7 linked regions of the Homo sapiens genome follow. The protein of the gene in region 1 purifies or fractionates together with the protein of each later gene. This does not show direct contact. Each region holds a gene or a part of one and is shown in the gene's direction. Other genes may lie near its edges.

Region 1 (3,500 bases):
TCAGGTGATCTTCCCGCCTCGGCCTCCCAAAGTGCTGGGATTACAGGCATGAGCCACTGCGCCCGGCTGAAATTAATTTTTAATTGACACAATAACTGTACGTATTTATGGGATACATAGTGATGTTTCAATTCATATAAGATATAGTGATTTGATCAGAATATTTAGCATCTCAGACATTTATCATTTCTTTGTGTTGAAAATATTCAAAATCCTCCTTCTAGCTATTTGAAACTATAATATATATTATTGTTGACTATAGTCATCCTACAGGGATATAGAACACTAGAACTTATTCCTCCCACCAAGCTGTAACTTTGTTTCCAAAAAGTACATTTTGGTGGGGAAAGAGAAGGAATCACTCTATAGAGTATTGGGTGTCCCCAAGAGAATGGGTAAGATAAGATAGGATGGTGTAGTAGAGTGCTTGAGGCAGCCAGGAATGCCTAACGAAGAGATGCCAAAAGGAAAGAAAATTGTCCAACAGCTGGCAGGAGGACAGGAAAGCTTTCCCTAATTTTGCTGAAGGTGATCAGAGTCATAGACTCTTAATAGTTGAGGAGAATAATAATTTAGTTATTGCTTAGAATTGACAGATTTCTAGGAAAAATCTGATAGCACTGTGTTTACACAAACCATAAATAATTAGCCTTGAAAATGGGGTTGGGGAAATAAGTAACATTCAACAAAAACACTCATCCCTTTGTTAGTTTTTATTTAGTTCTTTGGAATAACCAGTTTTTGTTTTAAAATATTTTAGTTATTCTATTTCTCCTTGCTTTTTCAGATTTGCTCATTAAGAAAAGTGATTGTTTCTTCCTGTGTGTGGCTTTGAGGGTTCAATTTTCAGAGTTTCAGAATTTACCACGCTGTTAAACGTGGTTAGTCATTCATACACCACACTGGCAGTTAAGAATGATGTTGGCTGGGCACGGTGGCTCACACCTGTAATCCCGGCACTTTAGGAGGCCAAGATAGGAGGATCACTTGAGGCCAGGTATTCAAGACAAGTTAGGTCAACAAACCAAGACCTGATCTCTACAACAAATCTAAAAATTAGCCAGGCATGGTGGCAGGCTCCTGTAATCATAGCTGCTCTGGAGGTTGAGGCAGGAGGATCACTTGAGCCCAGGAGTCTGAGGCTGCAGTGAGCTATGATGGCACCACTCCACTACAGCCCATGTGACAGAGCAAGACCTTGTCTCTTAAAAAACAACAACAAAAAAGAATGATGTTAATTCACAAAAGAGATAATCTTATATTTGAACAGTGCCCCATATCACTTTAAACCATTTTAAGTAGTTTTCCTTAGTAACTGAACAAGTCTAAAGGTGACTTGATTTGTTAAGTAGTTTTTCATCCCATTTGGGATTTTTTGTGTGCGTTTTTGTAACTGTTAACAGTAGCAGCTTTGAAAATAGACACTACTATATGTGTGACTTTGTGGCTTCTTAAATGGTTAAAACTTACCAAAATGCTAATATTGAGAGCAGAAATTATTTTACTTTATCTTATTGATTATTTGTTTTTTATGCTCTTTCATTGGGTAAGTTTAGTGATTATTCTAGATTTCAGGAAACTTTTGGTCAGAGCAAGCAGAAGAGCTAGCTGGGCTTAAGCAGCATTTTATCTTTGTTTTTTCAGTGATTGCCTTCATGTTGTGGAGCCCATGCCTGTGCGGGGGCCTGATGTAGAAGCATACTGTCTACGCTGTGAATGCAAATATGAAGAAAGAAGCTCTGTCACAATCAAGGTAAAATATATATCCCTCTATCTACCTGTCTGTCTGTCTGTCTACGTCTTTTCTGCTTCTGGATGGTTTCTAGACAAGACAGAAAAATTTGGACCCCTACCCCAAAAGGAATAATGGGCCTGTTCTGCCTGCCTCACTGACATGGTTTGTGGATTAGTTAGGGTATGTTAGATAGATATGTGAAATGGCACAAAAATGCCCTATGTGTAATTAGCATATTCCAGAAAGATATCCCAGCTTCTGTGTAGGCCATGTGTGCCAGAGGCTGAGAGAGCAGCATTTATAAGCCCTCCTCTCCTTGCCTTTCCAGCCCTTTGAAAAAATTAAATATATAGTAATTATTCTAGAACTATTACTTCTGGATTTTAAGATTTCCCCTCTTCATTTCCTGTAGGACAGTGGTCCCCAGCCCCCAGGCCACAGCCCAGTCTGTGGTCTGTTAGGAACTGGGCCACTCAGCAGGAGGTGAGCAGTGGGCAAGTGAGCAAAGCTTCATCTTATTTACAGCTGCTCCCCATCATTCGCATTACCACCTGAGCTCCACCTCCTGTCAGATGAGCAGCAGCATTAGATTCTCATAGGAGCATGAACTCTATTGTGGACTGCACATGTGAGGGATCTAGGCTGCATGCTCCTTATGAGAATGAGAATCTAATGCCTGATGATCTGTCACTGACTCCCATCACCCCCATATGGGACCGTCTAGTTGCAGGAAAACAAGCTCAGGGCTCCCACTGATTCTATGTTATGGTGAACTGTATAATTATTTCATTATATATTATAATGTAATAATAATAGAAATAAAGTGCACAATAAATGTAATGTGCTAGAATCATACCCAAACCATCCCCTACCACCCCTGGTCCATGAAAAAATTGTCTTCCATGAAACTGGTCCCGTCCCTGGTGCCAAAAAGGTTGTGGAGTATTGCTGTAGTAAATGGGATGTAGATCACTCTCATCACCATTTGTATTTCTAATGAGTTCAGTTACTTTATTATAGTGGCTAATGGTTTTTCTTCCAATTTTTTTTTTTTTTTGAGATGGAGTCTTGCTCTATTGCCCAGGCTGGAGTGCAGTGGTGTAATCTTGGCTCACTGCAACCTCCGCCTCCTGGGTCCAAGCGATTCTCCTGCCTCAGCCTCCTGAGTAGCTGGGATTACAGGCATGCACCACCACGCCCAGCTAATTTTTGTATTTTTAGTAGAGACAGGATTTCACCATGTTGGTCAGGCTGGTCTCGAACTCCTGACCTCGTGGTCCACCCATCTTGGCCTCCCAAAGTGCTGGGATTGCAGGTGTGAGCCACCGCGCCTGGCCTAATTTTTTTTTACATGGCACTTCCCATTCCTTTCCCCCCAAAAGGCCCTGTGGGGAATGTGGGGTGGTTAGTTATAATAGTCACAAACATTTCTGCTGTGATTGACCCTGTGGAAGAGCTCTTGCTCCAGCAGGGTGCTGAACTTTAGATAAATCCTCACTGTACTATTATTTAACAGATTTGTAAAAAATATACAACTTATGTACCCTAAAAGTCACTCACTATAAGTATACAATTCTATAAATTTTAGTAGATTTAAAACATTTTAAAATCCAGTTTCAGGCCAGGCATGGTGGCTCACATCTATAATCCCAGCACTTTGGAAGTCCGAGGCGGGTGGATCACTTGAGGTCAGGAGTTCGAGACCAGCCTGTCCAACGTGGTGAAACCCCATCTCTACTAAAAATATAAAAATTAGCCAGGTGTG
Region 2 (3,500 bases), on another chromosome or scaffold:
AGACAGTAAAACATTTTCATCCTGCCTTTTATATGTATTTTAGAATGTTTTAATGATAGAATTTTCAGATGATATAATAGGATATTTTCTACTGAGAATAACACAAAATAATTTCAATTTGTTTTGTCTGTTTTTTTTTTTTTTTTTTTTTTTGAGACGGCGTCACGCTCTGTCACACAGGCTGGAGTGCAGTGGCGCGATCCTGGCTCACTGCAAGCTCCGCCTCCCGAGTTCACGCCATTCTCCTGCCTCAGCCTCTCGAGTAGCTAATCTCGTGTAGCGCTACCGCGCCCGGCTGATTTTTTTTGTATTTTTATTAGAGATGGGGTTTCACCGTGTTAGCCAGGATGGTCTCGATCTCCTGACCTTGTGATCCTCCTGCCTTGGCCTCCCAAGGTGCTGGGATTACAGGCGTGAGCCACCGCGCCCGGCCTGCCTTGTCAGGTTTTTTGCAGGGAGGTTTTTTTATCAAAGAAATGAGCCTTTCACTTGTCTGGTTCTTTTCCTGGAATAGGAACTTTGTGGATGTAGTGAAAGATCTCAAGGTGAAGTTGAGATCCTCAACTTAGAGCCTTTAGGTGGGCCCTAAATCCAGTGAATGGTGTCCTTTTAAGGAAGAGGAAGGGACACAGTCACATACAAAGGAAAAAGTCCATGTGAAAATGGAGACGAGATCAGTTACTGCTGCCACATGCTATGGAATGCCAGAAGCCACCAGAAGTAGGAAGAGGCAAGGAGGGATTCTTCCCTTTGGATGTAGCATAGCTCTGCTGTGACCTTGATTTTAGATTTTGGGCCACCAGAACTATGAGAGGAAATTTCTGTTGTTTTAAGCCACCAAATTTATGGTAATTTATTAAGGCAGCCTTAGGAAATGAATGCAAGTTCCCTTTTATCCTAACTTTTCAGACCCATTTTGATTTCTTTATTCAAGTTTCCACTTACAGAGTCTACTGTACATATGTTTACACAATCAGATCCTGTCTTTGGCTCATCTCTGATTGTTTCATGAATCTAGAAAGCAGTTATTCTGAGGCTTTAGTGTGTTATAAGTAGAGGCTCTTGAAAAGCTTCTTAAAAGGTCTGGGCTCAAGTATTTAAGAATATTTAAAAAGTTTTGTGTTCTGCTTTTGATATTTTGTTTTGCTTAGACTTAGACTTGATGTAACTAAATTTGTTTATATAACCTATGTTATCTTTTCATTCAGAAAAGTCTTTGAAAATCTTTAAAATGGCCGGGCGCGGTGGCTCACGCCTGTAATCCCAGCACTTCGGGAGGCCGAGGCAGGTGGATCATGAGGTCAGGCGTTCGAGACCAGCCTGGCCAGCATAGTGAAACTCCGTCTCTACTAAAAATACAAAAAGTTAGCCGGGCGTGGTGGCAGTGGGCGCCTGTAATCCCAGCTATTTAGGAGGCTGAGGCAGGAGAATCGCTTGAACCTGGAAGGCGGAGGTTGCAGTGAGCCAAGATTGTGCTACTGCACTCCAGCCCGAGAGACAGTGCGAGAGTCCGTCTCAAAAAAAAAAAAAGAAAATCTTTAAAATATTTCATATTACCACTGGCGTGTCTTTAGGAAACGCCATGTGAGGCTATTAATTTTTCTTAACAAAAATGTGTACATTGAGACTTCATTTAATCAGCTGTTTAACAATCCTCATCTGTCAGAACTTTGCTAAGAAATAATAAAAATATAAGCAGTCAAAGTACATATTTTGAAGGCCAAGCACTTTATATAGAAGAGAATCTCTATGGCTTTTACTCAGTCTGTATGCTTTTATAATTCCAGTAAGTTTGGTAATTTGATATTTTTTATAAACGAATCCTTCAAATCATTTTCAAAAGTGTAACTACAACAATAAAATTTACTGTGATACGGGGCCCGGCGTGGTGGCTGGCGCCTGTGATCCCAGCACTTTGGGAGGCTGAGGCGGGCAGATCATGAGGTGAGGAGATCGAGACCATCCTGGCTAACACAGTGAAACCCCGTCTCTACTAAAAATACAAAAAATTAGCCAGTCGTAGTGGCGGGCGCCTGTAGTCCTAGCTACTTGGGAGGCTGAGGCAGGAGAATGGTGTGAGCCCGGGAGGCGGAGCTTGCAGTGAGCCGAGATTGCGCCACTGCACTCCAGCCTGGGTGACAGAGTGAGACTCTGTCTCAAAAAAAAAAAAAAAAAAAAAATTTACCGTGATACTCTTAGCTGAAGATAAATAACTACTGTTAACTTTTTGAAAAACAACTTTCTGATAAATGATTTACATACTATAGTATTTACTTTTTTTGAGTGTAATGATTTTTGGTAAATTTACTGAATTATGCAGCCATCAGCATAAATCCAGTTTTAGAACATTTCTATTACCTCAATAAAATCTGTAGTGCCCTTGTTGTCATCCCTAGCTTCTGGCATTCACTAATCTATTTTCTGTCTTTAGAGTTGCCTTTTCTGGACATTTCATGAAATGCAGTTATACACAGGTGGTCGTTAGTGTCTGGTTTCTTTCAGTATGTTTTTGAGGTTCATTCATGAAGTTTGTATCCACACTTCATTTCCTTTTATTGATGAATAGCATTCCATTGTTTAGATATCCTATATTTTGTTTATCCATTTACCAGTTGATGGATATTTGGGTTGAATGAATAATACTGCCATGAATATTTGTGTATAAGTCTTTGTGTGGACGTAAACTGTTATTTGTCCTAGGTAGACAAACTGGGAAGGGAATTGGTGGGCCACTTGATAAATTTATGTTTAACTTTTTAAGAAACTGCTAAATTCTTTTCCAGCCTACATACCCACCAGCAGTGTATGAGGCTTCCCGTTTCTTCAAATTCTCACCAATATTTGTTACTGCCTTTTTATTTTTAGCCATCCTAGTTGTTATGATGAAGTGTTACTTCATTGAAACACTGTTAACTTTTTGAAGTACAGATTAAATATCCTTTATCAGAAATGCTTGGGATCAGAAATGTTTTCAATTTTGTTTTTTTTTTTTTTTTTGGACTTTGGAATATTTGCATATACATAATGAAATATCTTGGGGATGAGATTGAAGTCTAAACACAAAATTTACTAATGTTTCACATCCACCTTATACACAATCCAAAGGTAATTTTATGCACTATTCTTTTTTTTTTTTTTTTTTTTTGAGACGGAGTTTAGCTATTGTTGCTCAGGCTGGAGTGCAGTGGTGCGATCTCAGCTCACTGTAACTTCCGCTTCCCAGGTTCAAGTGATTCTCCTGTCTCAGCCTCCCAAGTAGCTGGGATTACAGGCATGCGCCACCATGCTCAGCTAATTTTGTATTTTTAGTAGAGATGGGGTTTTGCCATGTTGGCCAGGCTGGTTTCAAACTCTGACCTCAGGTGATCCGCTGACCTTGGCCTCCCAAAGTGCTGGGATTACAGGCATGAGCCACTGCACCTGGTCTTATGCACTGTTGTTAATTTTGTGCATGAAACAAAATTTTGACTGTGTTTTGACTGTGACCCATCACGTGAGAT
Region 3 (3,500 bases), on another chromosome or scaffold:
AACAGAAAAGCTTTTGTATGTCTCTTTTTTTGTTTTTTTGTTTGTTTGTTTTTTTCTGTACATAAATATATGCCTTTCCCAATTTTTGTTTAGGAAACAAAAATTTCTAAACTATGCATTTTTGTAATAGTCTTTATTTCTTTTAGCATGTTGTAAACTTTCCCCATGTCAACAGATATTTTTCAAAACATTTTTATATCGCTTTGATTCATTTATATGGGTATATAATTGATGATAGTTGAAATAAGATTGGCAAAATATTATATTTGAAGCTCAAAATGGAATTCATTTTACTGTTTCCTCAGCTTTTGAGTGTGTTTGAAATATTCCAAAAGAAAAATCCAGACTTGAATGGTGTATTCCTGAGAGAGAGTTGCAATGGCCATCTCCACAAAACACCTGATGACTGAGGAATAGATGAGACGAGGGCAGATTTTTAGTCATAAAAAATGAGTTCAGATTGAGTTGAAGTTTTTGCCTACTGTAGATCATTAGATGGACTAATTTTTCATTTATGCATATGTCAAACTATAATTTTGCTGAGACATAGTATGGTTAGAAGGACGTAGTAGAACTTAAAGCTAGATAAATAATGAAGCACCATATTAGAAAGCTCTGAATTTCCATGTGATAAGTTTGTAGGCTAAAGGGGCAAATGCTTTAGGAAAATTTCGTAGCAATATGTTTGGTGTTTAAAGTAGGGAAGGTCTGAGTGAGAGATTGCAGTTAAAAGCTGTTTATTACTAAAGTGAAGGCCAGTTATCAGGAGGATCTGAACAGGGAAGGAAAATGGGCTGAAATCACAAGTTTGAGTTGACAGCTGAATGTTTCTAGGGAGTCAAATATCCCTAGGATTCAAATTGAGTTAACTGGGAGTGGCAAGTTGATTGATAGTAGTGAGGACAGAGAGACAGTCAAAGAAAGGTTTTAGCTCTGCTGAATATTTAGTCCCAAAGGAACATCCAGGTGGTGATGTCCAGTAGTTGGGAATGTAGAACTAAAGTGAAGAAGAAGGGAAACCAAAGAAAAAGTTGATAGTTTTTGAGACTACTGGAGTGGCTGTAATTTACCAGGGAGAGAGCAAAAAAGGGTGAGAGAACTAGTGGCAAACTTTGGTAACAGTTGCATATAAGGTGCAGGTGGTATAGGTGGAGAAAAAGAAGCTAGAGGAGAGGTGATCAGAACCAATTGTGTAAAGTGTTGTGGAAACTAAGAAAAAGAAAAATTTTAAAGAAAAGGAAGAAAAAGTTTAAGGATAATTGATAGAGCAAAGTCAGGAAGGAGACAGGAGGATTGGATCCAAAGTAAGTATACAGATAGAGGGATATTTTCTCCTCTGAAGTAAGATAATACTAAAAATGATGGTAGGGAGAAAAGGTAGCTTCATATTGATCTTTTTGGCAAATAAGGTGATAGCATGCACAGAGTAAAAGAGAGTAGGGAGAGTAGACTTTAGGGAAACAGGAAAGATTTACAGCTGATGTTTGAGAGACTTAGTTGTTTACAGACTGATCAAAAGAATGCTAAGCAGCCCTGAACACCTTGCCAAAGATGGATGGCTAACTTGATGCTAGATCCAAGCGGCAAGCTCAAGAGCAGGAAAGGGCAATAGTGGGGCTAGTAAAGCTGGGGATCAAAAAACATGAGGACGAGAAAATAAAATATTGGTAAGAACATCGTTGTAATCTTGAGACACAGGGTTGGATAGAAGAGCAAGTGGTATCAGGAGACCAACAGGACCATGAGAAGAAAAGAGGAATGATTGGGCCGGGAAGTTGCCTAAAAGTAGTGAGCAGACAGGATTGTAAGAGGTGAAAAATAGGAGCTTGTGATCAGAGACTAATTGAAAATGAAAGATCTTTGATGTGGACAAGTTCCAAGTGATGACCGAGTCTAAAGCCTGATCTTCCCAGACAGCTGAAGTAAGAGAGGACACAGGTTGAGGAAACCTGAAGTCAAGTTATGAGAAAGGGGTGGTGTTACTTAGATTTATTTAGGATGGCCCTAAGATCTTTGGAAAACAAAGAGCCTTCTCATTCTTTCTCTAAGTTCTACATAAAGGGATAGCTTGGGCAAGTGCTGTTTTAGAGAGTGTGGGAAGAGTGACAGGAAACAAGTAGCACCTTTAAGTGCTAACACACCTAGAATATCTATAGAAGCATACACTAGAAGCTACTAAGGTCAGGGAAGGGACAGTATGGCTGGGAGACAGAGGTGGAAAGAATATTTTTTACTGTACATCTTTTTATACCTTTATACCTTTCAAATTTTAAACTACGTGTAACAATTAAAAAATAAGAAAAATAAAAACAACGTAGATATTACAGATGCAGATAGTAACCAGCTTGTTTAACTTTAAAGCAGTTTATCCCTTACTTGTTCTTTCTGGTTTTGAAAAAGATGAATGTGATGGGTACGGTTGATAAAAAGAATCTGTAAAAGTACGTTATTCATAGTATAGTATTTTGCTACATTATTTTCAAGCACTGCTCTCTTAATTTGAATCTTTCATCATATGTCTTGTAATCCCTGGAGTATTTTAGAATTTCCTTCAGTGGAATCACAGCTTTCCCTCACTCTAAGTCTGATTTAGCCATTAATAGAATCCTTTAAATAGATCTCTCTCTGTTCACTTCTTCAGTTCAAACTGAGAGATGTCATCTAACCTAAGAAGAGATAGAAAGCAATTAGGAGTTAGCATCCTGGCACTCTTTTTGGGATCCTGTGTCATCATCTGGTTTGAAAAGGTAAACATCTCCAGGATATCAGCACATTCAGGGTTTGAGAATTAGCACACTGATTCATCCAAAAGCCAAATAAAATATTGTTGAGATTTTCCTATTATTCTTCTATTAGTTAAATAACCAGAGGTAATGGCAATTATATATATTTAATTAAATACATTTAACAAATGTAGTAATTTCTATTGCAATAATTTACATGTTTTCCCTTTTAAAATCTTAAACCAGGTGTGAAAATCACATCAACACTGCAAGTGTTGAAGCTTATCAAGCAGGCTGGTGACCGAGTCCTGGTGTACTATGAAAGGCCTGTTGGCCAGAGTAATCAAGGTGCAGTGCTGCAAGATAACTTTGGCCAGTTGGAAGAAAACTTTTTGTCAAGCTCATGCCAATCGGGTTATGAAGAGGAAGCTGCCGGGTTGACAGTAGATACTGAAAGTAGAGAGCTGGATTCTGAATTTGAAGACTTGGCAAGTGATGTCAGAGCACAAAATGAGTTCAAAGATGAGGCACAATCATTAAGTCATAGTCCCAAACGTGTTCCAACAACACTTTCTATTAAACCCCTTGGAGCTATATCACCAGTTTTAAACCGTAAATTAGCTGTAGGAAGTCACCCACTACCACCGAAAATTCAGTCCAAAGATGGAAATAAACCTCCACCCCTAAAAACTTCTGAGATAACAGACCCAGCACAAGTGTCAAAACCAACCCAAGGATCTGCTTTCAAACCACCTGTGCCACCACGACCACAAGCGA
Region 4 (3,500 bases), on another chromosome or scaffold:
CCGGCCACTCACAACTCTTAATCTCCACTCTAACCACTGCATGAGTAAATCCTCCAGAACATTCCTTAGGGACTTAATTCTCTATTATACTTTTGTGTATAGAATATAAAATCTAATGTAGATGATACTATATATACATGTTTGTTCTGTGTTTGCAGGGACCAAACTTTACAGACCACATACTCAGAAATGCATAAATGTAAATAGCTTCACATTTGATCTTTTTAAAGAGAGATTCCATTCAGTTAAATAACACAGTCAAGTTCTTGTAATTTCTTTTTCTCCCAACCTTTTATTTTGAAAAATTTTAAACCTACAAAAAAGTTGAAAGAAACGTATAATAAAACACTTGTAGGCTGGGCTCGGTGGCTCACGCTTGTAATCCCAGCACTTTGGAAGGCTGAGGCAGAGGGATCGCTTGAGCCCAGGAGTTCGAGACCAGCCTGGGCAACATAGCGAGACCCTGTCTGTACCAAAAATAAAAAAATTAGCCAGGTGTGGTGCCTGCCTGTAGTCCCAGCTACGGGAAGCTGAGGCAGAAGGATTGCTTTAGCCCAGGAGGTTGATGCTGCAGTGAGCTGAGATCTCGCCACTGTAATCCAGCCTGGATGACAGAATGAGACCCTGTCTCAAAACAAAAAACAAAAAAAACCAACCAAACGCTAGTGTATCCTTTAGTTTCACCATTTGTTAACATTTGCCACGTTTGATTTCTCTTTTTCTCCTTCTATACGTATATGTGAAATGCACAAATTTTTTTGCAGAGTCATTTGAAAGTAGTCACAGATACCCTAACACTTAAATACTTCAGCTTGTATCACTTTAGAAAAAAGGCATTCTTGGCTGGGCATGGTGGCACACACCTGTATTCCTAGCACTTTGAGAGGCCAAGGTGGGTGGATAGCTTGAGCCTAGGAGACCAGCCCAGGCAACATAGTGAGACCCCGTCTCTACAAATACAAAAAAAGTAGGCATGCTGTGTGCGCCTGTGGGCCCAGCTACTTAGGAGGCTGAGGTGGGAGGGTGGCTTGAGTCCAGGAGGTCGAAACTGCAGTGAGCCATGATCGTGCTACAGCACTCCAGCCTGGGCAACAGAGTGAGACCCTGTCTCAAAAAAAAAAGAAAAAAGAAAAAAAGAAAAATAAAAGAAAAAGGGATTCTCTTATAGAACATCAATTCCATATTACACCCAAGAAAGTTAACATTAATTCAGTAATACTATATCCAAATTTTTCTAGTTGTCCCTCAGAATTCCTTCATAGCTGTTCTTTTTTTGCAATCCAGGATCCGATCAGTGTTCACATACTACATTTTGTTCTCATGTCTTTTTAGTCTCCTTTAATTTAGAACCGTCCCCCTTGCCTTTTGTTGTTCTTGGTGTTTTGGATGACGCTGACATTTTAAGAGTCCTGACCAGCTGTCCTGTATAATGTTTCACAATCTGGATTTATTGTTTCCCTATGATTAGATTCAGATTAAACATTTTTTGGCAAGAATACTATGTAGGTGATATTATTTCCCATTACATCATATTAGAAGGTACAGAAAGTAACTTTATCCCATCACGGATGTTATGAAGTTGGATCACTTGGCTTAGGTGTTTTCATCACGTCCTGCTCCATTATAGAGGTACATTTTCCCCTTTTTAATTAATATGCTATCTGGTGGGTGATCCTTTGAGACCATCTGAATATCCTATTCCCCAACAACCATTCTGCATTTTGTTTTAGTTTCTGAATTTTGCTAGATAATGGTTTTTCATGTATACCTGGCACTCACGTATTGAATATTCTCTCCCTAAGTGATTCCAACAAAAATAAAACAAATTTAATACTGTGTTAGCCAAAAAGAGACTCCATTAAGTCGATTTTTAAAATTTTTTATTATTTTTATTTTTTATTGCTATAAAACAGTTGTACATATTTAGGACCCATCAGTTTTGAAAATTACATAAAAGAAGGGAAGAAAATGTCTTCCCTAAAATAATATCAGCACATATACTGAACATTTTAGATTTCATTGTGTAGGCTGCAAATATGGAAATTCAGTGAGTTAGTTCACCCACATTTAAATTAAAATAGCACAATTATTTTTAACTTAATTGGTTATTTCTGTTATGACTCATCAAATTCTCAGGCCTCTGTTTATCCTGTAACAGTTTAAAGCATGACTTCTGAGCCTCTTACTTTCTACTCTGCCCAGAATCCTGGCCGTTTGTCATGGGGTCATGTATAAACAGCTCTCAGCCTGGATGCTCCATGGACTCCTCTTGGACCAGCATGAAGAATTCTTTATCAAACAGGGGCCATCTTCTGGTAATGTCAGTGCCCAGCCAGAAGAGGACGAGGAGGATCTGGGCATTGGGGGACTGACAGGAAAACAACTGAGAGAACTGCAGGACTTGGTGAGAGCCCAAAAAGTAGCCTAGCACTCTCCTGCCAGGAGTCAGAAAAGCATGCACACAAATGATCTTCTGGTGATCCCTTCTTAGCTCATAGCTGAGCACCTTCCATCAATCCTTTCGATGTAAACATTCGGCTTTATCTTAACTAGTGTGAGACTATAAAATAGAAAATATGTTTGTGATATTCTTTTTGTTTCCTCTTTCCCAATATATGCATTTGAGAGATTATAAGTCTTACTTATGTAGCTACTCTAATGGAGCAGCTAGCTACATTTTAGATTTTAAATACAGTTTGGAGTTTTGTTTTTTTTTTTAAAGACAGATTCTCACCCATCGCCCAGGCTGGAGTGCGATGGCGCAATCTTGGCTCACTGCAGCCACTGCCTCCCAGGTTCAAGCAATTCTCCTGCCTTAGCCTCCCAAGTACCTGGAACCAGGCATGTGCCACCATGCCTAGCTAATTTTCATATTTTTTATTTTCATATTTTTAGTAGAGACAGGGTTTTGTCATGTTGGCCAGGCTGGTCTCGAACGCCTGACCTCAGGTGATCCACCCGCCTCGGCCTGTAAGTGTTGGGATTACAGGCATGAGCCACCGTGCCTGGCCAGTTTGGTGTTTTGATTAGACTCCTCAAAGTTCTACATTGTCCATATTCATCCATTCATCCATCCATCCATTCATTCATTTATCCTGTGGCAATATTTCATTGAATGCCTGTTATGTGCTAGGCATTGTTCTAGGTGCTACAAATAAAAAGTAGTAGTGTCTGTCCCTAAGGAGCTCATAGTTTAGGGGAAGAGATATAGAAAAGTAAACAGTTACATTACAGTGTGCTAAGGGCTCTGAAAAGACTAAATATGGGTATTCTTGGAACATGGTCATGGGATAGGGTCTTGGAGTGACTAGGGAAGGCTTTTCAGTGGAAGGTATGTCTAAATTGCAAAGAGTTTGGGAGGAGCCATCAAGAGACATCCAGGCAGAAGGAATGATATGTGTAAAGGTACAGGGGCCATTAAGGACATGGTTCATTTGGGGAAACAGTAGTAATTCAATTGAAATGATCAAATAAAGGCTGAAGTAAAATGTTACAAGAGA
Region 5 (3,500 bases), on another chromosome or scaffold:
GCATGAAAACAGGATAAATTAAGTGTGTTCTGAGAGTGAACAGCAGAGGTTAGCCTCTCCGTAGTGCAGATAGACAAACTGAGCCTCAGAAAAGCAAAGCAACTTGCCCACAGCCCCACAGCTAGGTAGCAGCAAAGCTTCACTGACCTTTCCCTGTCTGGGACCTGCCAGGGAAGCCCTGGAAGTCCCCAACACAGAGAAGGCCAAGACCTATGTGGAGGGTGTCATGGGGAAGAGCTTGGGTTTGGGGGCCAGGATTCAAGTATACTCGGCTGAAGACCTTGACAGGGAATCCCAGGGGCTTCCCCAGGACTTTTCTCCATCTGGAATGGGGCATCCAGAACTGAAGTGCGCGCGCGCGCGCGTGTGTGTGTGTGTGTGTGTGTGTGTCTGTCTGACTGTCTGTCTGTGTAGGCAAGACCTGGTTTCCAATCCCAGTTTTGTCACTCCCCCTCTGAGACACTCTCTCTGGCTCTCTGAGCCTCTATTTCTTTTTTCTTTATTTGTTTTCTTTCTTTCTTTCTTTCTTTCTTTCTTTCTTTCTTTCTTTCTTTCTTTTCTTTTCTTTCTTTCTTTCCTTTCTTCTTTCTTTCTTTCTCTTTCTTTCTTTCTTTCCCTTCCTTCCTTCCTTCCTTCCTTTCTTTCTCTTTCTTTCTTTCTCTCTTTCTTTCTCTCTTTCTCTCTTTCTTTCTCTCTTTCTCTCTTTCTCTCTTTCTTTCTTTCTCTCTTAGATGGAGTTTTGCTCTTGTCACCCAGGCTGGAGTGCAATGGTGCGATCTCAGCTCACTGCAACCTCTGCCTCCTGGATTCAAGGGATTCTCCTACCTCAGCCTCCCAGGTAGCTGGGATTACAGGCACACACCACCACGCCTGGCTAATTTTTGTATTTTTAGTAGAGACGGGGTTTCACCATGTTAGCCAGGCTGGTCTCGTACTCCTGACATCAGGTGATCTGCCCGCCTTGGCCTCCCAAAGTGCTGGGATAACAGGCATGAGCCATAATCGTGCCTGGCCTCTGAGCCTCTATTTCTGCATCTGTAAAATGGAGACAATGGTGATCAGACCTGTTTCATAGGATTGTTGTAAAGGTTCAGGGAGATACTGTGTGGGGGCACCTAGTGAGCATGAGTGCTAGAACTTGAGAATGACCTTAAAGGAGGCTTTAAACCCAGAGGGTCCAAGGGGCAGCCCTCTGGCCACCCCTGCCTCAGACGCACGTCTAAAAATATTAAATTGGGATGGTATGGTGGTTCATGCCTGTAATCCCACCACTTTGGGAGGCTGAGGCGGGTGGATCACTTGAGGCCAAAAGTTCGACACCAGCCTGGCCAACAAGGCGAAAACCTGTACTAAAAATACAAAAAATTAGCTGGGCATGGTGGTGCACGCCTGTAGTCCCAGTTACTTGGGAGGCTGAGGCAGGAGAATTGCTTGAAACTGGGAGGCAGAGATCGCAGGTTGCAGTGAGCTGAGATCACGCCATTGCACTCCAGCCTGGGTGACGAGTGAAACTCCGTCTCAAAAAAATAATAATAATAAATAAAAATAAAAAGATTAAATTGGCCAAAAATCAGGAAATTCCAAATACAAATCCAGATTTCTGGCTTTATTGAAAATTATGCACTCATTAATTCAACTAATACATCTCTGCAAGCTCCTTCTATGAACCAGTTTTCTTGCTAGTGGCCCGGGCAGCAGTGGCAGGGCTGCCCTCCATAGCTCTCCACCTCACCACGTTCACACAGTCCCCTGGCATCCAAGTCCCTTCCTGGCCCTGTGACCATCTGTCCTCAACCCTTTCCTCACCCTTACCCCCAGCAACTGACGAACCACATCCGGGACACACTGCCGGGGCTGCGGAACAAGCTGCAGAGCCAGCTACTGTCCATTGAGAAGGAGGTGGAGGAATACAAGAACTTCCGCCCTGATGACCCAGCTCGCAAGACCAAGGCCCTGCTGCAGTGAGGCTCCCCCAGCTCCTATCACTGAATCCCCGCCCCCAGCCTCTCAGCGTGGGGCTCTCCCAGGGTTCCCTTTGCTGGGCTGCTCCTGCCCCCTCAGGCCACACCACTCTCCCACCAGGATGGTCCAGCAGTTCGCCGTAGACTTTGAGAAGCGCATTGAGGGCTCAGGAGATCAGATCGACACCTACGAACTGTCAGGGGGAGCCCGCATTAACCGAATCTTCCACGAGCGCTTCCCTTTCGAGCTGGTCAAGGTAGGTCAGGCAGCCCTGGGGACAGGATGGCTCAGGACTCCCCCCACCCTCACTCAGGACTCTCTCTGCGTGTGTTTTTGCTGGCCCCCACCCCACAGGCCCTGATGCCCAGCCCTAGGTGTGGGGTGGGCCCTGTCTTGACCTCCCAGGTAGTAGGACAGGCCCTGACCAGGCTTTTCTCTGCTTTTCTACACAGATGGAGTTTGATGAGAAGGAACTCCGAAGGGAGATCAGCTATGCTATCAAGAATATCCATGGCATTAGGCACGTATTGGGGCCTGGGAGGGTGGCTGAACCCCAGAAGTAGGGGGTCTGGGACAGAGGCACAGGGAGTGATGAAGTGGGCCTCCCTCAGGAAGGACTGAAAGCTCTGTTCCCCAGTCCTCTCGACCCCAACTTTCTGGCTCCCTGCATGACAGGCTCCAGCTTGGGGAGGTGGACCCGGGCCACCCCGCCTACTGCAACTTGCTGGGCCAACTGGGCACAGCCCAGGGCGCAGGTGGCCGGGGAAACACCCTCTGGGGCTGGGCCCATCCCCAGGGTGAGATAGCTCCCCCAGTGCCACCCAGGTAACCGGACAAAGATGTCCAAACCACTACGAGGGCCTGGGGTGGAGCATCTAAGTATGAGGCTGTGTCCTTTTATGACGGCCGGGGACTTTGCAATCCTCCACACCCTCCTGTATTCACAGTAGCCCAGAGTCAGTCCCATTCCACCCCACCGCCCTCCTTCTAGGCAACCCGTGGAGTAGGAAACAGGATTGGGAGGTGGAATCTGTTCCTTAAAAGCTTAGATCCCCTTCAGGGACCCAGATCTATGCTGTGTTCATCCAACAAATCCACTGGGCCGGAAAATTTAAAGCACCTACCCTATGCCAAGCAGTGAACAAGACCCAGTGTCCCCTTGCTCTCATGCAGGTTCATTTCCAAGATTTGGCATGGAATTTACTTCCTGATAACTGCACTGGCCAATTCACAGAAAAAAGATCTCTTTCCTAGTCTTAAAACAAAACACTCTATTCCTGGAAAGGCTCTTATGGAGAACCACGTTTGGCAATTTTCAAGCCATTTCTGGCCATAGAACTTCCTATATGCACAGACCCTTACGAGGAAGCAGGACTTACATATCAGATACTCAACCACCTTGTCTTGCCCCAAAGAGCCTCATTAGGGCCGGGCGCGGTGGCTCACGCCTGTAATCCCAGCACTTTGGAAGGCCGAGGCAGGCGGATCATGAGGTCAGGAGATCGAGACCATCCTGGCTAACACGGTGAAACCCTGTC
Region 6 (3,500 bases), on another chromosome or scaffold:
GAAAAAAAATATTTGCCCAGCCCTTTAGAGATTGGTTTAGTGGAGTATGATTTACCCTTAATATGAAATATTTCCCTTGGTTAAATTTCATTGTATCTGTTGTTGTGCAGTAGGAATACCAGGTATAATTAACATTTTGTGAAAGTAGGCCTATAAAATATATCTGTATATTGGTCACCAAAGGTTGTAGGGAATTAAATGTTCATTTGAGTGAACATTTTATTTATTGAGACAGGCTCTTGTTCTCTCACACAGGCTGGAGTGCAGTGGCACAATCATAGCTCACTGCAGCCTTGATGCCCTGTCCTCAAGTGATCCTCCCACCTTAGCCTCCCTAGTAGCTGGGACTACAGGTGCGTGCCACCACTCCTGGCTAATTTTTTAATTTTAGTAGAGATGGGATCTTGCTATGTTGCCCAGGCTGGCCAACATAGCAGGCCTCAAGTGATCCTCCCACCTTAGCCTCCCAAAGTGCTGGGATTACACATGTAAGCCACTTCGCCTGGCCCTGAGTGTTTTAAATTTAGTTAATTCTTTTCCTACATGGCATATTAGAACATCAGAACATAGAACAGACTGGAATTGGGCCACATGGCTTTGTTATAAGTTTTAGGTGGCTTTCTTTAAAATATAAAGATAAAAAAGTATATGTATCAGGTCTCCTGAAATCCATTCTCATGCCCTAAGCTCTTTGGACATTTTCAGTAGTAGAGAGGAGGAGCCTGCCATGCTTGCCTTTAACTGTCTTTCCTTTCCAGATAAGAACACATGGAGTATATTACACACCCAGGGTGCCCTTGTGCAAGGGGGTTACGGCCATAGCAGTGTTTACGACCATAGGACCAGGGCCCTATACGTTCATGGTGGCTACAAGGCTTTCAGTGCCAATAAGTACCGGCTTGCAGATGATCTCTACCGATATGATGTGGATACCCAGATGTGGTGGGTACTTTTTCTTGAGCTTTCACTTTAAGGTGTAAATTCTGTAGAGGCAATTGTGGAGAAAATATTGTGCTATCTTTTTGTTTTCATGCCTGGCAGATAATTCTGTTCGGCATTATATATAGAGAAATTGGGAAATAAACAGAGGGTAATAAAGTAGCTAGTATTTATTTTGTTACGTTATTCTGTAATTCTGTAGCAGGTTGGTTAGAAAATACTTAGAGTTTTTTAACAAATGTAAAGCAAATTTGAGTTACGAAATAATGTAATTATAAAGCGATGGTTTCTCCTCTTTTTCCTCACATGTTTGATACCTTGCTATGGGTACTGTTTTATATTCTGTCATAAAAATAATCATTTTTAGTAGCTGTGCAATACTCCATTTTGTGGGTATGCTGAGACTATGCAGGTGAAAGTTTTGGTTTCTTTCTAGTTTTTATGTCATTAAGAAACCATTATGCATTAAGCTTCTGTCAATATTTCACATGATTTCTGCCCAGAAACTGGAATTATATAGCTACGGGGTATGAAGAGTTTAAGGTTCTTAATATATTTTGCCAAAACTCTTACAGGTCTTTAAAATTATCTGTATTTATTGTTGAAAAACTTACTTTTATGTAGGGAAAACTCTGGAAGGATTTGTACATTTGGGTCTGAGGTTAATAAAGTGGTTGTGCTTGCATTAGCAGATACATAAATATTCTTTAAAAACTAACCTTGTATTTATTATTTCTAAATAAACTCAAAAGGACCATTCTTAAGGACAGCCGATTTTTCCGTTACTTGCACACAGCTGTGATAGTGAGTGGAACCATGCTGGTGTTTGGAGGAAACACACACAATGACACATCTATGAGCCATGGCGCCAAATGCTTCTCTTCAGATTTCATGGCCTATGACATTGGTAAGTTTCCCAAAACCATTTTCTCTTCAGGCATCTTTTTGCCTATACTATAAGCAGCATTTAAAAGGAGACTGAAAATATTGCCAGTTCAAAATGATCAGGCCATTTGAAAGAGGTCCAAATGGTATTTTTTATATTCATTTGACTAATGTTACACATCTGGTAAAAATTATTTCTACATTAAATTCTTTTTGAAATCACTCCTGTTAATTGCTTGAATGCTAATTTTTAAGGCTGAGTTGAGGTGTCTAGTCTCTCCTTTGTCATGTTATGCCTACCTGGTAGTGTTACATAGTTGCAACCACCAGCATTGTGTTAAAATTGGTTCACGTATTAGCTTTATCTCATTCCCTAGAAAACTGGTTTCTCACATGGTCTTGGTGTGGCAATATACCAGACCAGAAGAGGGCAGTATTTGTTCATGCAAAGCAAATGCATACCGGATGATCTCTTTCATAAAAATTGTCAGATGTTCATTTTAAACAAATTATTATTTTTTTGATTGTGGTAAAATACACATAAAATTTACCATCCTAACTATATTTAAATGTCTAGTTTAGTGATACTAAACACATTCATAATGTTATAAATCCATCACCGCCATCCATCTTCAGAACTGTCTTCATCTTGTAAGACTGAAGCTGTATACCCATTAAACAATAATGTCCCATTTCTTCCTCCCCACAATGCCTGGCAACCACTATTCTACAGTCTGTCTCTGTGATTTTGACTATTCCAAGTCAGACATTCGTTTTTAACAGACATTTGTGTGCCAGCCACTCAGTTTGTACATTGAGGAGATCAGATGAATAACTTAAAGCCCTTAGCCTCAAAGTAGAAGAGGTAGAGAAATGAGCAGACAATAGAATTGCACTTCAGGGTGTTTCTGGCTGAAAAGAATGTATGAGAGCACCTCTGAGTACCCTTTAAGTCATGGAGGGTAGAGTGATAAACAGGGAACACTTTCTTAAGGAGGGGCCATCCTCTCTGGGTCCTTGGGGACACTAGGTGTCAGGTAGGTGAAGTTAGGCAGCACTCTCCAGGCAGAGGAAACCCAGTTTGCAGAGACACAGAGGTGGAAAAGACCGGCACATATTTAAGGGCTCAAAGAGTGAGACACTGAGTGTGAGGTTGGCATGGTATAGCAGCACCAGTTGGTATTAGATCCAGAAGAGAAGTTGCTAGTATGGGTCACAACAAGGGAAAATTAATCAATCTATGGGATCTAGGAAAGGACTTTGTAAAAATTAGGTGACATTTAAATTTCTTGAAATTTCATTTTCCACCTTTATTTTTCCATTTTAGCTACTAAATTTGAGCAAATCAATATAGAAAAGAGTGGAAAATAATTATGAAACCCATGTTTTGCTGACATAAGCTTTGTAGAATGTAAAATTTGCTTGCTTTAAAAAACATTCTTGGCTGGGCGTGGTGGTTCATGCCTGTAATCCCAGCACTTTGGGAGGCCCAGGTGGGCAGATCACGAGGTCAGGAGATTGAGACTATCCTGGCTAACACGGTGAAACCCCATCTCTACTAAAAATAAAAAAAATTAGCCAGGCATGGTGGCAGGCGCCTATAGGCCCAGCTACTTGGGAGGATGAGGCAGGAGAATGGCGTGAACCTGGGAGGAGGAGCTTGCAGTGAGCTGAGA
Region 7 (3,500 bases), on another chromosome or scaffold:
CATCTGGTTTCCAGGTCCTTCCAGTTAATGGGGAGGGAACTTGACTAACAGAAGCTTTGGCAGGGAAAAGGAAGAGATCTGATCCCCTCTGAGTTTTAGGGAACTCCAGTCTTCTCCTTCCCTCAAGTGTTCATCACATTGTGAGGCCAGAGAAAGGAGTCAGAGTTGGTTGGAATTAGTACTTAACAGTGGTGTGATCTGGGCAAGTAATAAACCCCATTCCCCAGCCTCTTAGGTGTCTTAAGGCACATCCTCCAAGCCTAGACTGAGCCCTTCCACAAGGAATCCCTGGTCCCCCACCAAGTGGCTTTCTTCCCTGGTTTGCTTTTAAATTCTGGCTTTGCCACTGTCTAATTCCGTGACATCAGACAAAACTGGTAACTTTTTGAAGCCTCACCTGTAAAATGGAATTAATAATAGGCCCTACTTCTTGGGGTTATGAGGATTAAATGAAATAATAGAGAAAGCACGTTGCACAGTTCCTGGCACATAGTAAATGTTAGCTGGATGGTTCGGATTCTGAGGGATAATCATCATTAAGGGAGAGAGGTCGGAGTCGGGATAGGAGAACTAGGCTTTGGTTCTGATCTTCCTTTGGCCGACCACATTAGGCACTCTCTCCTATCTGCCAGGCACAGTGTGAAGCACAGGGGATGGAGGGGCAAATAAGATGTTTTCCCAGGGGAGACATGTGAAAACATGTTGATTCACTGCAGCCCAGTGAGTGCTGTGTGGAGGTGTGTTCAGGAGGCCACTGGAGCATAGAGGAAGAGTGCTTGGCCCTGGGGTGAGGTGCCAGGGAAGGTTCCTGCAGGAGATGCCCTGTTAGCTGGATTTTAAAAAAATTAAGGTGAAATTCACATAATAGGAAATAAACCATTTTAAAGTGAACAGTGGCATTTAGTACATTCACAGTGCTGTGCAACAACCACCTCTGTCTAGTCCCCAAACATTTGCACCATCCCGAAACAAAACCCATACCCATTACACAATTGTCGCCATTTCCCCTTACCCCAGCCCCTGGCAACCACCAATTTGCATCCTGTCTCTATGGATGTACCTATTCTGGATATTTCATACAAATGGAATGATAGAATGCATGACCTTTTGAATCTGGCTTCCTTCGCTTAACATAATGTTTTCCAGGTTAATCCACACGGTAGCATGTAGCATGTATTAGTACTTCATTCCCTTTTATAGCTGAATATTATTCCCTTGTGTGGACAGACTTTACCTGGTTAAAGGATGAGTTAGGCCAACAGGAAGGGTCTTAGGATGGCACTCCTGGTGGAGGCTGAGCGTGAGCAAGAAGGCACACAGGGTATTTGGTAGTCCTGTACCTTGCAGTATGAAGTGGGGATTTGGCCTCAGTTTCTCTGTCTATAAAACAAAGTTAATCATCCCTTTCCTGCTTGTGCTATGGGCTTGGTAGAGTTGGAGGTATTAGGGGAGAAGAGAGGCTAGGGTATTATTGCCTCTTCTCAGGGTCTGGGCTGGGGATGGGACTTTTAAAACTTGCTCTTTCCTCCTCTTTCCTGGGCAGCTCACTCCTGTATGCATCAACCCTCATCCTTGTGGGGAGCCATCTCCCTGTTCACTTGACATCAGCTTCCCCTCTCTCTGAATTGACCTGAAATTTTCCCTTTTACCTTCCACAGGTGGGTAACCCTGTGCATGATGAGATTTTGGCAGCAGAGGTGAAGGAAAGGCCTGGGACTAAGTCCTACTCACATTCTACCCTACGGCGGCCCTCCCCTTCTTTATCCTGTCTCTTGGTGATGTGGCTTGGGCAGCCCTCTCTCACCTTCTCTGTTGTAGTCTGGATAGAACTGTGGTGGGCCAGGGAGAATGTTTGCATTCCTTGTCTCTACCCTGCTTGGTACAGAGTAGGAGGCAGAGGCCCTTTATGGTGGGGCCCTTTGGAAATGAGGTTTTGCTGTGCTTTGTCGGATGCCCCTGGCAAGATTGGTAATTATAGACATAACAGCTGGGAACTGGTTTGAGAGAAGCAGGCTTGGAATCAGCAGACCTGAGGATATCCTGGTAATCAGGGTGGGGCAGGGAGAGGGGAGAGTGGGATGAAGCTGGGGGCTGGGTAGGGTGGGAGGCTTGGGGCCTCCTTCCCCTGCCGCTCCACACACAGCTGGGCTTAGAGCCTAGAGGAGAGTGGGAGGTGATTGGAACCCAGGTCTGCTTTACTGTAAGTGAGGAAGGAGGAAGGAGAGGAGGAAAGGTGGGGGATCCAAGGGCCTCTGAAGAAAGAAGCAGAGAGGAGGAAGAGGCATGTTGGTTGCTCTCTCAGGCAGTACCTGGATGTGGTCTAATTTAGAACAGGGACAACCCTGCACCTAGAGGTGGTTCCATCTTATTTTGGGGTGTTTCTCCTTACAGTGAGGTTATGGGAGCAGGAAGTGGAGGGGATTCGCTGTGGACCCACTAAAGGAGAAAAGGTGGGAACTAACATTTTTTTAAGCATCTATTGTGTGCCAGAATCTGTAATATTCTGCATACATTATTTTGCTGAAAACTCTTAACCTTCTGAAGTAGGCACTATTATTGCCATTTTATAGATAAGGAAACTGAAGTTTGGAAAAGGGGAGCGACTCACCTGAGATTACATAGCTCGTAAAAGGCTGTGCCAGGTCTGACTTCAGTGCTCTTCCTTTTCCCAAAGTCTCTTCACCTTCCCCTACTGTCATTCCAGTTCGGTCTGATTGCTCATTATTGCCTTTAATCTTGCACTTGAGTAATTCCCCTGTTTTCTGAAAAGCAAACATGAGTCCAGTGTCAGCCTGAGGAGTAGAGAAGCCTACCCTTGAGGGTGGGAGTCAGAGAACGATCTCATCTCCAGGAGGAGCACCTTGGTGTCATAAGCCTGGGGCGGGGCCAGCATCTGGGCAGAAACCTCTCCTGGGGTGGGTCTCTTTCTCCTTGCTGGGCCATGATTTTGGATGGGGGTTGGGGTAAAGGAGTGACTGTAGGCTCCGGCCACCATGGCCCGTGGGGTCTTGTTTGTGAATGGGAGGAGCCTGGTCCTTATTGTCTGTAGGGTTTTCTCACAGCCCCTAACAATGTCCTTCAGACTCCTGTTTTCACCAGAGTGTTCTTGGCTCCCTCAGCCTGGTCAGAGAGAGAGGGTGTGTTTGTTTGTGGGTCTAGGGAGGGGGTTCTGGTTTTTTTTTTTTTGAAACCGTTTCGCTCGTTGACTAGGCTGGAGTGCAATGGCGCGATCTTGGCTCACTACAACCTCTGCCTCCCTGGTTCGAGTGATTCTCCTGCCTCAGCCTCCCGAATAGCTGGGATTACAGGCATGCACCACCATGCCTGGCTAATTTTGCATTTTTTGGAGAGGCGGGGTTTCACCATGTTGGTCAGGCTGGTCTGGAACTCCTGACCTCAGGTGATCTACCTGCCTCGGCCTCCCTAAGTGCTGGGATCACAGGCGTGAGCCACCACGCCCGGCCCAGGGGGTCTGGTTTTTTAGGGTAAGTAGGGTTTAG

Evidence for each region.
Region 2: the proteins of TMEM9B (region 1) and ARFGEF1 purify together in Homo sapiens (co-immunoprecipitation; 2 studies listed by BioGRID and IntAct, with this or other methods). This does not show direct contact.
Region 3: the proteins of TMEM9B (region 1) and PDZD8 purify together in Homo sapiens (affinity purification with mass spectrometry; 2 studies listed by BioGRID and IntAct, with this or other methods). This does not show direct contact.
Region 4: the proteins of TMEM9B (region 1) and TUBGCP4 purify together in Homo sapiens (co-immunoprecipitation; 2 studies listed by BioGRID and IntAct, with this or other methods). This does not show direct contact.
Region 5: the proteins of TMEM9B (region 1) and DNM1 purify together in Homo sapiens (affinity purification with mass spectrometry; 2 studies listed by BioGRID and IntAct, with this or other methods). This does not show direct contact.
Region 6: the proteins of TMEM9B (region 1) and ATRN purify together in Homo sapiens (co-immunoprecipitation; 2 studies listed by BioGRID and IntAct, with this or other methods). This does not show direct contact.
Region 7: the proteins of TMEM9B (region 1) and VANGL2 purify together in Homo sapiens (affinity purification with mass spectrometry; 2 studies listed by BioGRID and IntAct, with this or other methods). This does not show direct contact.

The regions. Positions count from the first base shown.
Region 1 is NC_000011.10:8,954,443-8,957,942, reverse strand, and holds part of TMEM9B (transmembrane protein 9B isoform a precursor), read left to right. Parts: intron 1-1,644; coding exon 1,645-1,753; intron 1,754-3,500. UniProt on the Homo sapiens protein: Enhances production of pro-inflammatory cytokines induced by TNF, IL1B, and TLR ligands. Has a role in TNF activation of both the NF-kappaB and MAPK pathways.
Region 2 is NC_000008.11:67,333,782-67,337,281, reverse strand, and holds part of ARFGEF1 (brefeldin A-inhibited guanine nucleotide-exchange protein 1), read left to right. Parts: intron 1-3,500. UniProt on the Homo sapiens protein: Promotes guanine-nucleotide exchange on ARF1 and ARF3. Promotes the activation of ARF1/ARF3 through replacement of GDP with GTP. Involved in vesicular trafficking.
Region 3 is NC_000010.11:117,284,941-117,288,440, reverse strand, and holds part of PDZD8 (PDZ domain-containing protein 8), read left to right. Parts: intron 1-2,641; coding exon of another isoform or gene 2,642-2,670; exon of another isoform or gene 2,671-2,747; intron 2,748-2,969; coding exon 2,970-3,500. UniProt on the Homo sapiens protein: Molecular tethering protein that connects endoplasmic reticulum and mitochondria membranes. PDZD8-dependent endoplasmic reticulum-mitochondria membrane tethering is essential for endoplasmic reticulum-mitochondria Ca(2+) transfer.
Region 4 is NC_000015.10:43,381,101-43,384,600, forward strand, and holds part of TUBGCP4 (gamma-tubulin complex component 4), read left to right. Parts: intron 1-2,202; coding exon 2,203-2,404; intron 2,405-3,500. UniProt on the Homo sapiens protein: Component of the gamma-tubulin ring complex (gTuRC) which mediates microtubule nucleation.
Region 5 is NC_000009.12:128,220,379-128,223,878, forward strand, and holds part of DNM1 (dynamin-1), read left to right. Parts: intron 1-1,818; coding exon 1,819-1,961; intron 1,962-2,082; coding exon 2,083-2,218; intron 2,219-2,414; coding exon 2,415-2,482; intron 2,483-3,500. UniProt on the Homo sapiens protein: Catalyzes the hydrolysis of GTP and utilizes this energy to mediate vesicle scission and participates in many forms of endocytosis, such as clathrin-mediated endocytosis or synaptic vesicle endocytosis as well as rapid endocytosis (RE).
Region 6 is NC_000020.11:3,561,518-3,565,017, forward strand, and holds part of ATRN (attractin isoform 1 preproprotein), read left to right. Parts: intron 1-758; coding exon 759-942; intron 943-1,691; coding exon 1,692-1,846; intron 1,847-3,500. UniProt on the Homo sapiens protein: Involved in the initial immune cell clustering during inflammatory response and may regulate chemotactic activity of chemokines. May play a role in melanocortin signaling pathways that regulate energy homeostasis and hair color.
Region 7 is NC_000001.11:160,403,564-160,407,063, forward strand, and holds part of VANGL2 (vang-like protein 2), read left to right. Parts: intron 1-340; exon of another isoform or gene 341-829; intron 830-2,564; exon of another isoform or gene 2,565-2,762; intron 2,763-3,500. UniProt on the Homo sapiens protein: Involved in the control of early morphogenesis and patterning of both axial midline structures and the development of neural plate. Plays a role in the regulation of planar cell polarity, particularly in the orientation of stereociliary bundles in the cochlea.